Regions from separate parts of the Homo sapiens genome. Here region 2 is linked to region 1. The links come from fine-mapping of genetic effects on gene expression. Tissue or cell type: whole blood. Region 1 holds a variant in brackets; the other region holds the start of a gene. All regions are shown on one strand. Distances are from middle to middle.

Region 1 (8,108 bases):
AGGACCTCTTCAAGGAGAACTACAAACCACTGCTCAAGGAAATAAGAGAGGACACAAACAAATGGAAAAACTTTCCACACTCATGGATAGAAAGAATCAATATCATGAAAATGGCCATACTGCCTAAAGTAATTTATAGATTCAATGCTATCTCCATTAAGCTACCATTGTCTTTATTCACAGAATTAGAAAAAACTACTTTAAATTTCATATGGAACCAAAAAAGAGCCCATATAGCCAAGACAATCCTAAGCAAAAAGAACAAAGCTGGAGCATCATGCTACCTGACTTCAAACTATACTACAAGGCTACAGTAAATATAACAGCATGATACTGATACTGAAACCGATATATAGACCAATGGAATAGAACAGAGGCCTCAAAGATAATGCCATCCAACTACAACCATCTGGTCTTTGACAAACCTGACAAAAACAAGCAATGGGAAAAGGATTCCCTATTTAATAAATGGTGTTGGGAAAACTGGCTAGCCATATGCAGAAAACAGAAACTGGATGCCTTCCTTACACCTTATATAAAAATTAACTCAAGATGGATTAAAGACTTAAACATAAAACCTAAAACCATAAAAACCCTAGAAGAAAACCTAGGCAATACCATTCAAGACGTAGGCATGGGCAAAGACTTCATGACTAAAACACCAAAAGCAATGGCAACAAAAGCTAAAATTGACAAATGGGGTCTAATTAAACTAAAGAGCTTCTATACAGCAAAAGAAACTATCATCAGAGTGAAGAGGAAACCTACAAAATGGGAGAAAATTTTTGCAATCTATCCATCTGACAAACGGCTAATATCCAAATCTACAAGGAACATAAACAAATTTACAAGAAAAAAACAAACAACCCCATCAAAAAGTGGGTAAACAACATCCACAGACACTTATCAAAAGAAGACATTTATGCGCCAAAAAACATGAAAAAACTCATCATCATTGCTCATTAGAAAAATGCAAATCAAATCCACAATGAGATACCATCTCATAATACTTAGAATGGCCATCATTAAAAAGTCAGCAAACAACAGATGCTGGAGAGGATGTGGAGAAATAGGAACACTTTTTAAAAATATATGTATTTTTTATTAGTATACTTTAAGATCTAGAGTACATGTGCACAACATGCAGGTTTGATACATAGGTACACATGTGCCATGTTGTTTTGCTGCACCCATCAACTCCTCATTTACATTAGGTATTTCTCCTAATGCTATCCCTCCCCCTTCCCCCCACCCCACAACAGGCCCCAGTGTGTGATGTTCCCCACCCTGTGTCCATGTGTTCTCATTGTTCAATTCCCACCTATGAGTGAGAACATGTGGTGTTTGGTTTTCTGTCCTGGTGATAGTTTGCTGAGAATGATGGTTTCCAGCTTCATCCATGTCCCTACAAAGGACATGAACTCATCCTTTTTTATGGCTGCATAGTATTCCATGGTGTATAGGGGCCACATTTTCTTAATCCAGTCTATCACTGATGGACATTTGGGTTGGTTCCAAGTCTTTGCTATTGTGAATAGTGCCACAATAAACATATGTGTGCATGTGCATTTATAGTAGAATAATTTATAATCCTTTGGGTATATATACCCAGTAATGGGATGGCTGGGTCGAATGGTAATTCTAGTTCTAGATCCTTGAGGAATTGCCACACTGTCTTCCACAATGGTCAAACTAATTTATACGCCCACCAACAGTGTAAAAGTGTAGAAATAGTAACGCTTTTTCATTTTTATAGTAGAATGATATATAATCCCTTGGGTGTATACCCAAGAGTGGGAGTGTAAATTAGTTCAACCATTGTGGAAGATAGTGTGGCAATTCCTCAAGGATCTAGAACCAGAAATACCATTTGACCCAGCAATCCCATTACTGGGTATAAACCCAAAGGGTTATATATCATTCTACTATAAAGACACATGCACACATATGTTTATTGCAGCACTATTCACAATAGCAATGACTTGGAACCAACCCAAATGCCCATCAATGGTAGACTGGATAAAGAAAATGTGGCACATACATACCATGGAATACTATGCAGCCATTAAAAAAGATGAGCTCATGTCCTTTGCAGGGACAAGGATGAAGCTGGAAACCATCATTCTCAGCAAACTAACACAGGAACAGAAAACCAAACACTGCATGTTCTCACTCATAAGTGAGAGTTGAACAATGAGAACACATAGACACAGGAAGAGGAACATCACACACCGGGGCCTGTTGTGGGGTGGGGGGCTGAGGGAGGGACAGCATTAGGAGAAATACCTAATATAGATGACGGGTTGATGGGTGTAGCAAACCACCATGGCACGTGTATACCTATGTAACAAACCTGTACGTTCTGCACACGTATCCAGAACTTAGAGTATAATTTTTTTAAAAAGAATAAAATATTGGAAAGCAACATAGAGTGATGAAAACCAGACAAAAAGTAAAGGTGTTTAGATCCTCAAAATGAGGAACTACACGTGGCCACAGCCACATTAGAAAGACTGTTACTCTGAAAGTACTCCCCAGACCAAGGTTCAAGGGATGGGTAGAACTCTGATATCTAATATATCTATTTCCTGAGCCAACATCTGGAGAGACAAAACTCAGGATACACATCTGACTGCTTTATTTTTCTGCATTCCCCTCTGGCTCTTTTCCCCTAGAAGAGGATGTGGGTTTCCATATCTTATTACCTAGACTTCTGTATAAAACGCTAGTGTCTAGTAACCTGGAAACCTGGGCCTTGACATGGAAATTGGAGAAATGATAAAATGCAGACAATCCATTCTGAAGAAAGTACTCAGGCTAACATGGCTGAAAAAATTCTATTAATGTTTTTGAATGTTGGCAGCTGATTTTTCTATATGTCTATGAAGCAAATATTGCATTCTCAAAGAACCTCTAGCATTAGCATGCATTTAAGCTTGTTAAAATACAAACTTTCTGAGGAAGTAGGTGTAGAGTGGAACCTGGGAATTGGCATTCCTAACACCTAATGTTCAAGGCATTTCCCCTATTTCCAACATTCCTAGTAAATGACAGGGTGCCAAAGACCCTTCTCCCCTGCAGGATTCCGAAGGACATAGAACACACAAAGAACTCAATCAAATCAGGCAAAATACCGTCTTTTTACCAGAAGGATATGACTTTCTAATAAAGATGGAGTAGAGACCAGAGCTGGGACCAGAGCTCAAAGTAAGTGTCTTAATCCTCCTACTGGAACAGAAGGGAGTTATTCCCCATCCTGGGCCACCTGACAACCACAGAGTGACAGCCCCAGGAGAGAAAACCAACAGAATCTGACCCAGGCAGAGCTGCCAGAAGGAGACCTTCATTGGTGACTGTAGAGTGGAAAGAGAAAGCAAAAATGAAGGTCATGTCTGGTCACCACAGGGCAAAGGGGAAAGGACAGTCTGTTTCTTGTTTTTGGAAAGTTAAAACAATAGTAGGAAGTGCTCCAGTGGGTGTCAGGCTCTCTAACATCCTGGAATTGATCAGTCATCTGCATTCCTGAGAAGATGACAATTTATTAAGCAACTCCAGAGTTGTTTCCTCCTGGGTGTAGAGGGATAAACAGTTTCTCTTTCCAAGCCAGAGG[G/A]AGGAGAGTGAGCTTGGTATAGAAATGCCCAGTGCTGTCTTTGGTACCTTCCCCTGTAACTCAAAATCTCTAGGAAAGCTGCTGAAGCTTACATAATGCTGATCACTATTATGATGGTGGAAACTAGGCAGAAAACTGAACTTCAAGTGAATGAACTGCAAGTGCATGAAATGGGGTAAGACAGAGGACAGTGGCACACGCAGGAGGAAGTAGGGGAAGGATGAGGAAGTGAGTGCAGAAAGCTCCCTGCAGGAGGGAGTTTGGATTCTGTGTGCTGTGGAAATGCAGCTTGAGCCAAGTTTTACCATTCTCCAAGGGCAAGGGGGATGTACCACTGCCAAATGGGTGAAAAATATTTAACGAGTGCTTCACACACTCCAGGATATTGGAATCCAATGGTGAATAAGGAAGTGTTCTTCATCAGCCATAACTGTAGGAGACAGATAGCAAGTAGTCAAAATACAAGATCAAAACTACTTTGTCCTGGGTATACCCAGCATCAATGAGCATAAGTGTCTTGAATGGGCTAGGAAACATTTCCCACAAAAAGGTCAGATAGATGATGAATGCTGCTCTATGAATGCTTCAGCAGTGCCAAATCATCTTGTGGCTGACTGCCATGGTTATTACTTGAGACTGTCACTATGACAGTTACTACTGTTACTACTTGAGACCGTCATTACAAGACTGAATGAAGGGACGAACATAGAAATGAAAACTTAAGACAAAAGAAACCATTTTAAAGGAAAGGGAACTGGGGAAGAAGAAAAGGGCTCCCTGCTTCTAGTGAGCAAAGGCCGCCCCTGAGCTTCTACCACGCTTCGTATTTATTGGGTAGAATGACCAGGGAGCAGAAGGTAATGATTGGTCAGCTGCTTAATTGAACACAGGTTCACATTATTACTAACAGGCTTCAGATGTACCTAATCACAACAAACATTGCACTTGGCCGTCACTGCCCTCAGTATCCCTTCTGGGTGGAAGACACAGTTTGTCGGTCTGCCAACATTCTGCATTTGAGAAACAGTTTGCTGCCTACTCATATAGCCTCCAGTGGTATGCTGAATTGACCACGACCCTCAATCTTTTGTCCTCCAACATTTCTCCCTTTTTGTTTTTGAATTAATTGAATAAGGCAATTGCAAAATGTGCAGCCTTCAATTGCTGGTTGGTGGTTCGTTCGTCTTCACATTCAGATTCAACTGGCTCATGGCTCACACTGGGGGAACCAGGCCTGTGGCTGGGATCCATGGTTCCCTCCAATCTCCTGTTCCATGGTTGTACACACCTTGAGGGCACCCACATGGTTTGTTCATTTGCTGTGAAAACACAAGCATACCCTCGCCCCCACGTTAGTAAATCTAGCAAAGCAGAAGCAAAAAGTTTTTGTGGCTGTAGCCGGGAGGCATGCCGTTGCTGAAGCGTCTGCTCTGCAACCTGTAACTCAGCTTCTGTCTCTTTGGTTAATTACCGCAGGGTAAAACTTTCCATTGATAATGAGAGGCTGGCTCTTTCTGATTAACAGAAGGCACACAGAGAGCAAATCGAGGCTTATCCTTCTCCAGTCTCTCATTCCATCACCACCCAAAGAGAGCAGCCCAGGGAGCAGTGTGTGAGGGTGAACATTAGAAACATGAAAAGGAGCAGCATGAGAGTGAACAGCTTGTTGAAGTCCCAGAAACAAGTGAAACGGCCCTGGTTTGAATGCCTCTGACATATCTCCCCCTTTACAAGAGGACCCTTAATCCTAAGGGTTGCAGAGGGATGAAGATCTGTCTTCTGTAACTTCTTCAGGCTGAATAGGGGTGATGATATTCCTGCCTAACTATTAGGGTCTCTGTTTCTGCTTCAGAAGATAGTACAGGTGTCTCTACTACTGAAAAGGGCAGTACAGGCCAATTCTCATCCTCCCTCTCCTGCCCTCCACCCCCGGTGGGTTCAACGTGCAGGGCAAAAGACTCCTTTAAACCTTGAGACACAAAACACGAACCGCCCATCCAGTCTGAGACATGACAGAATCTCAGCACTCTGTTGAACACTTTGAGCTGTTCCTACTCCCACTAGGGATGTAGAAGATAGTTTTAGGGACCGAGATAGGGGCCAATTGTTTTTAGATATTACTGACACACTGACACATCAGCTCCTATATCCATAAGCCCATAAAACTTCTTTCCTTTGATTTGCACTGTATAGGTGGGTCTATTAGATGCCACGGGTTGTGATAGGTAAGTCTCTCTCCCAGTTGCACTTCCAAATCCCTGACCTCCTCACTTCTTCTTATGTAGAGAGGGGTACAATTTATAGGGAATAAGCAACAGTTGAGCAATATATTCTCCTGGTTCAAAAACCCAAAGATCTTGTGACGTTACCACTGCTTGAATTTCTCCTTCACAATCCCAATTACCAACTCCTGGGCCTGTAAGTTAAGACAGCTTTTGCCCAAAATTAATCCCATGTATCCTGTTGGCAAAGGTCCACAAATGCCAATGGGAATCTTAGTGAGTTTGTTTCTTCCAATTAACGTAACCTGCTCTCTAACTGGGCCATCTAATCCTGCGCTTCCAGGTGTTCCTGGGGAGAGGGAATCAATATGCCTCTGGAAACCAATCCCTGAAATGAAGCTGTTCTCTGGACAGGGAATGCCCTCATTTTTTGAGGTGCCAGGGTCCAGGCCCCCTTCTCACTTCCCAAGAGGGGGCTGCCATTTTGATGAAACTTTGAGTGGCATTGATTAACTCAATGATTCCCTTTATTGCAATGAGGGCCAAGTCCTGGCATTTTTTCTGTTAAGAGGGGAACTGTGTTACAAGATCCCTTTTGCCCAGAGGTCTGGCAGTGTTCTTTTTTGAAATGTCCAATTTTTCTACACTTATAACACTTTCCCACATTAGGGCTTGACCCTTGGCTTCTTTTAGATCTGTCAGCTACCAAATTAGCCATTGTCTGAGTCAATACTGCAGAGCAATGAAGCTCAGTTCCCACATCCCGACAAGCTCCGAGAAAACCTCCCAAGTTCTCTGCACATCTCACAGGTGCCAATGCAGGTTTACAATCCCAGAAAGCCAAAGCTAAAGTTAGCCTTTCTGTAGCCACAAAGGAAGATGGTACAAGCCAATTTCCATTCTCCCTCTCCTGTTCACTACTTTTGATAGGTGCTGTAGGTGGGGCAAAAAATTCCCTAAAACCCTGAAATAACAAAAAGATAGTACGTACCGAACTCCAAACAAAAGAGCGAAGAAATAGCCAAATTCTTCCCCATGTTACCCTGATTCAAAAACTTCCCATTCTTTGTACCTCTAGGGCCCTGACCTTATGTTGCTGCAGGCAGACTTGTAACAGGGTTTCTCATTCGTCTGGTTGGTTTTAATTTTTTCTGGGCTTTGGTTTTTTCTGTTCCAGCAGACCTTCCTCATTCAAGTCCCTTTAGGACCCAACTCTCCCTATCTGTCCCAGCAAGTTTTGCTAGTCTTTATCTATCCCTATCTGTCCCTCTCAGTCCCTATAGCCCCTGTTAGTTCCTGCAAGTTCTTGCAAGTCCCTGTCTTTCCCTACCTATCTCTATTTGTCCCTATTTGTCTATTTATCTCCATTTATCCCTCCTTATCTCTATTTGTCCCTGCAGGCCTCTTCAGGTCCCTTCAGGTCTCTTTTTGTCTCTGATAGTCCCTGTTTGTCCCTGTTCAGGTGCCACTTTTGGCTGACTGCCATGGTTATTACTTGAGACTGTCACTATGACAGTTACTACTGTTACTACTTGAAACCATCATCACAAGACGGAATGAAGGGACAAACGTAGAAATGAAAGCTTAAGACAAAAGAAACTTTTATAGGAAGGGGAACTGGGGAAGAAGAATAGCACTCCTCCTTCTAGTGAGCAAAAGCAGCCCCTGAGCTTCTACTGCACTTCGTATTTATTGGGTAGAATGGCCAGAGAGCAGGAGGTAACTACTGGTCCGCTTCTTAATTGATCACAGGTTCATATGATTACTAACAAGCTTCAGATGTACCTAATCACAAGAAACATCGTGCTTGGGGTGTAACTGCCCTCAATATCCCTTCTGGGTGGAAGATGCAGTTTGTCAGTCTGCCAAAATTCTGCATTTATGAGAAACAGTTTGCTGCCTACTCATATAGCCCCAGTGGTATACGGAATTGATCACGACCCTCAGTCTTTCGACCTCCAACATCATCTGTTGTTTCTGAATCACGGAGGAGCCTAGAATGATATTTCTCATCACCTCTTACACTGTATGGTCCAAGTGAGAATAAATCAAGATGAGACATTCACATGAGATTTGGATGGTGGACAAGGAAGAAGGACCATTCTCTGGCAGCAACAGCAGAGAGACAATGAGCAGACCTACCTGCATGTCACAGCAAATGAGCGCCTCAAAACCACCCAGCTCTGTGCATCAGCAAGCTTCCAAGACCTCTGCATTCCCAGCCCTCCAAGGGGTGGGCCAGCCTCTAATTTCCTGGATTTGAAAATATATCCTAC
Region 2 (8,108 bases), 130 kb before region 1:
GCTCCTCAGGGCCTGCCCAGCGCAGCACCTGCGCCAGCTCATACACCTCGTTGGAGTAATGGGCGCCCTTGTGCTCCAGCACCAAGCCCTCGACCATCCCCAGCAGCTGCTCCACCTGGGCTTCCTGCTCCCGGCCGGTGGCCCGGTTATCAAAGGCACAGACCCGGCCCCCGCACTCGGCCACCAGCTCGCGCAAGGCCCGGTTCTCTGTGTTGCTCACGTAATCGTGCAGGGAGCCCCCGGCCAGGTCCTCCTTCCTGGTGAAGACGATGACCATCCATTTTAGGACGTCCTCCCCGAACATGTCCCTCACCTGCCTCACCGCCTGCTGGTCCTGGGCGGTGAACCGACCCAACTGGGTCACCAGGAGCAGCGCGTGGGGTCCGGGGGCCGAGAGCAGGTAGCAGTGACCTCTCTCCTCACAGCCAGGATCTGTCTTGGACACTTGGGAGCTGAAAATGTCCGGAGTGTCCACGACTTCCACGTGGCACTTGTCCCACCTGCGGCTGCCCGTGGTGCAGGCCCTGGTCACAGACGTGGCCCCCAGCCTGGAGAAGAACCGTCTCTGGCCCAGGATGCTGTTCCCAGTGGCGCTCTTCCCGGCCCCTGTTCTCCCAACAAGGATGAGCCTCCGCGTGGACTCCTGCCGGGACTGAGCGTTCTCTTCTAAACCTGTGAGACCAAGTGTTATAATCTTACTTAAGTTTAACCAACTTCCCCTTGGGAACTGGAATCTTCTTGCCTTTAGCATAAGTGGTTAAGAATAGAGATTTGAACGCCTGGGCGTTCATTTCCACCTTTTCCTTTTGTATTTGGGTTGTCTGCCTGCACCAGTAGATGCTCCAACTACAGTTGATTATCATAGAAATGCTTCTTTATCAGTCCAGCCCAATAGTTCATCTGACATTTCTGGTCATCCACACACATGCAGACATATTTATTTCATATTTGAAAATTTCGATGGACTCTGAAATATTCTCCCAGAGACCATCCCCAGAGACAGGCAGTGGGGGCAATACTGCCTGGTAGTGAAGAGCTGTGTGGAGTCCCAGATACCCTGGTTTGAATCACAGCCCCACCACGTGCTGGTTGTGTAACCTTGGGGAAGCTGCATAATCTAAGTATTAAGCCTCTTCGGCAAAAGTGGGAGCGATAATAGGGGCCTGTTTCTCAGAGGCCTGTTGAGGGGGTGAAATAAGCCCTCTTTCCTTCTTCTCTCTTTCTCTCCCTCTTTCTCTCCTTCCTCTCTTATCTCTCTCTTAAACTGGCTGCCTAAAAAGAATATATGTTTTAACCCTCTATCCTTGTTCTCTAAACATTCTACCTCACAAATCATGTTCACTGTAGTGCATGATTTAATCCCCTCTGCACTTCTTCTGCGGTGATCGGAGTAGGTTTATTATCCTTATTTTATACTGTGGAACCAAGGGAGCAGGCTAGTCACAGAACTTAACTTCTCACAGCAGAGATCCAGCTAAAATGCAGATCTCAGGGCTGGTGCTGTTTCATCCCAGAGTTGAGACACCTCTGGAACTTATCTCTGTTCAGTCTTGAGGAAGCCCCATTCTCCTTATTACCCTAAGTTCAAGCCTAGGGGGGCAAGTATGAGGTGTAGAGATATGGTCTTACCATAGACATTTTCTTCATCTGTCGCCATCTTCCTTCCTCCCATGCTTACCTGGAAGAGTCCCAAACACAATTTGTTAATTCATTTATTTATTCCTCAAATAGGCATAACCACAAATAGGCATAACCACCTACAGGGTGTCAGGCAAAGTCCAAAGAGCTGGTGACAGCACAGTGAAAAGACATGGTTTTTGCTTGCAAGGATCTAAAAATCTAGGTGTATGTCTTGGCAGAAGGGCACGTGGCTAGAGAGAAGACAGGTAAATTTCGTCAAATATAATACATTGTGCTAATCCTTCTTTAAGTAAGGATTATATCGGAACTTGAGAGAATGGCCTTGGAAGGGCCAACACCCTGCCCTTGAGTTGGTAGGATGCTGTGAGAACATTGGGTGAGGCTAGATTTGTCTTTTCAGGAACTCCAAAAGCAAAAAGCAGAGGGTCGGTTATAACATTTACTCAATGCCAATGGGCTTTAGGTATTACTTTTCCCTGGGTGATTCTATATCACTGACATAAGCTAGAGATATCAGGGGATTCAGCAGCTGGGGGAAGATTAGGTAAACCCTCAGAACCAGAAAATGTGCCCAGTGACTTAGGCACCCACCTTCAAGTGGCTGACCTGGGAAGAAAGAAGAAAATTGGGATTTTTCTTTTGGAAATTGAACAGATCTCCCAAGTAGATCTGGAGGGCCCCTAACTCTGTTTTCTTAAAATCAAATAATTTGGTTTGTTTAGAGATGTCTAAATACGATATCTGTGCTGGAGAGACTTGAACACTTCCCTTCAACTCCTGAAGTTGCTTCCCCTCCAAATGTGATTATGCTGAAATCTAACATTGTGTAATACAGCTAAACCCTCTGTGATCCAGTTTGCCTAATCACACAAGCTCCTGAACACAAATTCACTTCTCCCTGCATCTATGTCTCCAGCCTCATTCCCAGACAATACCCCACTCGGTCAGCTACTTCACAATCAGCAGATTTCAGGGCCTTTCCAACCCACTCGGCTTCCCCTCCTAGGACTATTGATCCTCCCCGACCATCTGTCTGTGCCTCACCATCCATGTCAAACTTGTTGTGTCTTGCACCCTGGTCACTTGGATACCTGTGTTCTCTCCCATTGGCACCACACATGAAGGAGGGGCAGAGAGAGAGGCTGGCTGAGTAACTTGTCTTTGATTGAAGGACTTGGAGAACAGATTTGCCTCATATTAAATCTAGAGCTGTTTCTGTTTCTGCAGGAACTCTACTGGCCCTCCCCAAAGCCTTCAATAAAATTCACTCCATGGGCCTTATGTGATTAATTATTTTGCATGTAGGAATGAACAGATGATCATAAATGACATCAAAGCAGAAATGAAGAAACAGTTGCAAGATTCAGAGAAAAGAATTTAGATGAAGCAAAATGTCCTTGTCAACCAAGAAAATGAGAATTTCTTTTTCCAGTGCTGCAGAATTCTGGATAGGCCTTTGGAATTTTCCATAGTTTAGAAGAGGGGTTGAAATGATTTTAAATAGTTTTTTTTTTTAAAGGAAAGTAAGACCCAGCTGAACTCTGAGGTGACAAATGGCCCTTAATCATTGAGGAATGTACACTTATAGAATCCTGTATTCCTAACACTTTAAGAGACCGCAAAGTTTATTGAGTTCTTCACCGCTCAAATGTGCTGCTTCTCAGAATTACTTGAATGTTCTTTAAAAATGTACATCTCTTGGATCCATCCTGAGATTCTGATTCATGAATTAAATGTTTCTGATGTCCACAGCTCAGAACTTGGACATCAGTCATTTTTGCAACCCCCTTTATTGTACAGATGGGAATTTGAGGTGTCCCCGTGGCTGGAGCAGGAGAAGCTTGAATTAAGGGAGCAGATGTTTAAGGGGCCATGCAGGGAAAGGGGTTGAAGACCAAGATATTAATCTCAGATGTCTCCTCAGGGGCCCCTTCTGTGGACAGTGAGGAGGAGAGTTCAAATGTACCCAGTCTTGTCACGTCGTAACTCACTCCGAGGTTAGATGGCTTATGGGGCCATAGAAATATCTTTTGCCTTTGCTCAATAGGGAGCTTGAGGAATGTTTAATGCCTTTCAAACTGTATTTTATTCCTGGAGGTGGTTCCAGCACACTCTTTTCTTACTTTGTTAAGGGAATGTGGGAGGAGACAGATTTCACTCCCCACCAAGAACGTGTGTGCTCCAGAGCTGGAGAAGATGATCCTAAAATTTCCTCTGAACTTTGCCTACTTAAAAACCTGGAAGTATGTCCTTGATTGTTCCAGATCTTGCTCGCCTGCATGATGCCTTGTAGAATGCAAGTGTTCAGGCAGTAAACACTCTAGGAATCATGTTCTTTCTGGTTCTCAGAGCACCCCCAGCCCCCGCCACTCCCAGGCTCAGGCTCACCTTTCCTGGTGACAGGCTCTGAAGTTGGCCACAAGAAGCCCCAACCTGCTGCTTTCCCTTCGGCTGTGAGTGCAGAAGGCTGTTTCCTCTCGGCACACGGAGGAAATCACTCAGACTTCAGAAATCAGGAAGCTCAGGGTGGGCCCCATGGTTATGGTTTAAAGAGACAGAAACATTTCCCATTGAGCTGTGGGTTGGCAATACTTCTCCTACCGACTCTACTTTCTGCTGTGACTGAGGTTATGTGTCTCCAGCAGGGCCTCATGATGTCAAATATCTTGCCATGCTCTAAGAAGGGAGGGATGTTGTAGTCTCTGAGGCCTGACTGTACTTCTAAAATTGATTACTGAGCTAATCTTCAGTTGCCTTTGCCCTATAGGGACATTTCCCCATATAAAATAGGCCCAGAGAGTCTCCTGCCCCGGAACAAATAACGTAATAGCTGTTCTCATCATCTGTCCATTAATTAGACATTCATGTGGCCAGTGCCAGCCCCAGATCCAGTCTGCCAGAAAAACCTGAAGGCAAAGTCTTATCATTCTCTGAGAGAGGAGGGCTTTCCCAGCTATTGAAGGACTTGAGGGTGAACTGGTATGTTGAGGATGAACACCTTCGCACTATCTTCAATTTAGCCTTATTAGGAGGCTTTAGTCTAGTCGTCTATGTTGGTATCACCAGTTCTAGTTATTCTATCTTCTCTCAAGAGCATCATGAGGTCAGCAAAAAAGCGAATCACTGGGTGGTAAGAAGGCTACAGAGGAGCAGGCTGCATATCTGGTTAGGTCATTAACCAGCTATAGGACCTCACCTAACTCATTTAAACTTTCTGGAGTTGGCTTTCTGGAGTATATGGGGAAGACAATAACCCGAGTCTTACCCTACTGGATAGGATCTGCTTTTTAACCTCTTTCATGCCAGACCACTTTTTTTCTGGTAGGGAAGAGACCCAGCTTTTACTGTTTCCCATCTTTTTGGGGGCACAGAGTCTCCTGGATATCTGACATGTCCACTGTTTCCATTCATCATTGCTGAAACAGGGAGCCTGTCATTCTCCCAGTAGACCGGCAGGGCTGGGGCTATTGTGAGGCAGGTGGGGCATCTAGAGCACACAGCTTAAGGAGGCACTCACTCTCAGGTCACCCAAGTGCAGATCTTGTAGGTGGGTGACCCTGGGAGTGAGTGTTTTCTTAAGAGTGAGGTGCCTAGGGCTTCTCACTAGCCTCATCCTAGCCCAAGCCACATAGATCAGCTTTGAATAAGTCTTTGATACTTGACGTGTACCTTTCATAAAGACGCTTTCAGAGCCTCTTCAACAGCTCCGGGCCATTTATTGTTTCCATGCATGTGTATGATGTCTTACTTCAGCCACTCATAACTCTCTGTCAGAGGGTTTATCTGACTACAAAAGTATATGTAGGTAATGCATGCAGCAGCCTGAAGTTGTCAGAGCTGATATCCTAGGAGCAGATTTCAATCAATGTCAGTTAGGACTTATGGATAAACACCACAACTTATCAAGTTGTCCACCACGTGAGACAACTCTGTGATGTACTGCATACAAATTGCTGAGTCCCCAGCAGGACTGAGACCCAGTTGTCTGCAGTGGGAACATCCTCATCACCGTATACAGTGGTAATGTGCTCATTAATGCAACTTGCATTGGCTACTATCCCTTCCCGTCCCACATTTCCACTTTCCTACTGGTGCTTTCTGGGATCTTCTTCCTATTGAAAAGTAACCGTTTCTGTCTTTATTTTCCTCTACATTTCTATTAGCTCTTGATTATGTCTCACTGTCTCTGGGCTTTGTTGCCTATTATTATTCATTGATACTTACTATCAGTTGTGGAAACCCAGGTGAAGCTCAGACCCTGACTACACTTGAGTCTCAGAATTATATCTAGAACTCCGGCTTCCTTTTGTACCCTGTATTAATGCTTCCTTCCTCTCTTTCCAGTCTTTGCATGTTCATTGTTTTCTTCCGTATCCTTATAAATGCAGTGAAGAAAATGTATTAGTCCGTCCTCACGCTGCTTTAAAGAAATACCCGAGATTGGGTAATTTATAAAGAAAAGAGATTTAATTGGCTCACGGTTCCACAGCCTGTACAGGGAGCATGATGCTGGCATCTCCTTGGCTTCTGGGGAGGCCTCAGGAAACTTACAATCATGGCAGAAGCCAGAGGGGAAGCACACACATCTCATGGCTGGAGTAGGAGCAAGAGAGAATGGGAAGGAGCTGCATACTTAAAAATTTTTATTTAATGTACTTTACATTCTGGGATACATGTGCAGAACATGCAGGTTTGTTACATAGGTATACATTTGCCATGGTGGTCTGCTGCACCCATCAACCTGTCATCTAGGTTTTAAGGTATTTGTCCCAATGCTCTCCCTCCACTTGCCTCCCCAACCCCCGACAGGCCCCCATGTGTGATGTTCCCCTCCCTGTGTCCATGTGTTCTCATTGTTCAACTCCCACTTATGAGTGAGAACATGCAGTGTTCGGTTTTCTGTTCCTGTGTTAGTTTCCTGAGAATGATGGTTTCCAGCTTCATCCATGTCCCTACAAAGGACATGAACTCATACTTTTTATGGCTGCATAGTATTCCATGGTATATATGGGCCACACTTTCTTTATCCAGTCTATCACTGATGGGCATTTGGGTTGGTTCCAAGTCTTTGCTATTGTGAACAGTGCTGTAATAAACATATATATGCATGTGTCTTTATAGCAGAATAATTTATAATCCTTTGGGTATATACCCAGTAATGGGATTGCTGGGTCAAATGGTATTTCTGGTTTTAGATCCTTGAGGAATTGCCACACTGTTTTCCACAATGGTTGAACTACTTTACACTCCCACCAACAGTGTAAAAGCATTCCTATTTCTCCACATCCTCTCCAGCATCTGTTTCCTGACTTTTTAATGATCGCCACTCTAACTGGTGTGAGACGGTATCTCATTGTGGTTTTGATTTGCATTTCTCTAATGACCAGTGATGATGAGGTTTTTTTTATATGTTTGTCACATAAATGTCTTCTTTTGAGAAGTGTCTGTTCATATCCTTCACCCAATTTTTGATAGGGTTGTTTGTTTTTTTTCTTGTAAATTTGTTTAAGTTCTTTGTAGATTCTGGATATTAGACTTTGTCACATGGATAGATTGCAAAAATTTTCTCCCATTCTGTAGGTTGTCTGTTCACTCTGATAATAGTTTCTTTTGCTGTGCAGAAGCTCTTTAGTTTAATTAGATCCCATTTGTCAGTTTTGGCTTTTCTTGCAATTGCTTTTGGTGTTTTAGTCATGAAGTCTTTACCATGCCTATGTCTTGAAGGGTATTGCCTAGGTTTTCTTCTACGGTTTTTATGGCTTTAGGTTTGACATTTAAGTCTTTAATACATCTTGAGTTATTTTTTGTATAAGGCGTAAGGTGTGAGGAAGGGGTCCAGTTTCAGTTTTCTGCATATGGCTAGCCAGTTTTCCCAGCGCCACTTGTTAAATAGGGAATCCTTTCCCCATTGCTTGTTTTGGTCAGATTTGTTGGAGATCAGATGGTTGTATATGTGTAGTGTTATTTCTGAGGCCTCTGTTTTGTTCCATTGGTCTATATATCTGTTTTGGTACCAGTACCATGCTGTTTTGGTTACTGTAGCCTTGTAGTATAGTTTGAAGTCAGGTAGTGTGATGCCACCAGCTTTGATCTTGATCTTTTTGCTTAGGATTGTCTTGGCTATACAGTCTCTTCTTTGGTTCTATATGAAATTTAAAGTAGTTTTTTCTTGTTCTGTGAAGAAAGTCAATGGTAGCTTGATGGGAATAGCATTGAATCTATGAATTACTTTGGGCAGTATGGCCATTTTCACAATGTTGATTCTTCCTATCCATGAGCATGGAATGTTTTTCCATTTGTTTATGTCCTCTCTTATTTCCTTGAGCAGTGGTTTATAGTTCTCCTTGAAGAGGTTGTTCACATCCCTTGTAAGCTGTATTCCTAGGTATTTAATATACTTTGTAGCAATTGTGAATGGGAATTCACTCATGATTTGGCTCTCTGTTTGTCTGTTATTGGTGTATAGG

The links. PIP is the estimated chance that this variant, and not a neighbour inherited with it, causes the effect.
Region 2: it holds the start of GIMAP1, and the variant in region 1 is fine-mapped to the expression of GIMAP1 in whole blood (TOPMed, PIP above 0.99).

The regions. Positions count from the first base shown.
Region 1 is chr7:150,582,333-150,590,440 of GRCh38, reverse strand. No RefSeq gene overlaps it. Among named protein-coding and RNA genes, the nearest start is that of GIMAP4, 19 kb to the right of the region's middle. RefSeq lists an enhancer at 3,736-3,915. The variant G/A (reference allele first, on the strand shown) is at 3,611.
Region 2 is chr7:150,712,612-150,720,719 of GRCh38, reverse strand. It overlaps GIMAP1 (GTPase, IMAP family member 1), which reads right to left and starts at 4,107. Exons shown (of 3, transcript NM_130759.4): 1 at 4,030-4,107; 2 at 1,630-1,678; 3 at 1-672. The coding sequence starts at 1,672. It overlaps GIMAP1-GIMAP5 (GIMAP1-GIMAP5 readthrough), which reads right to left and starts at 4,107. Exons shown (of 5, transcript NM_001303630.2): 1 at 4,030-4,107; 2 at 1,630-1,678. The coding sequence starts at 1,647.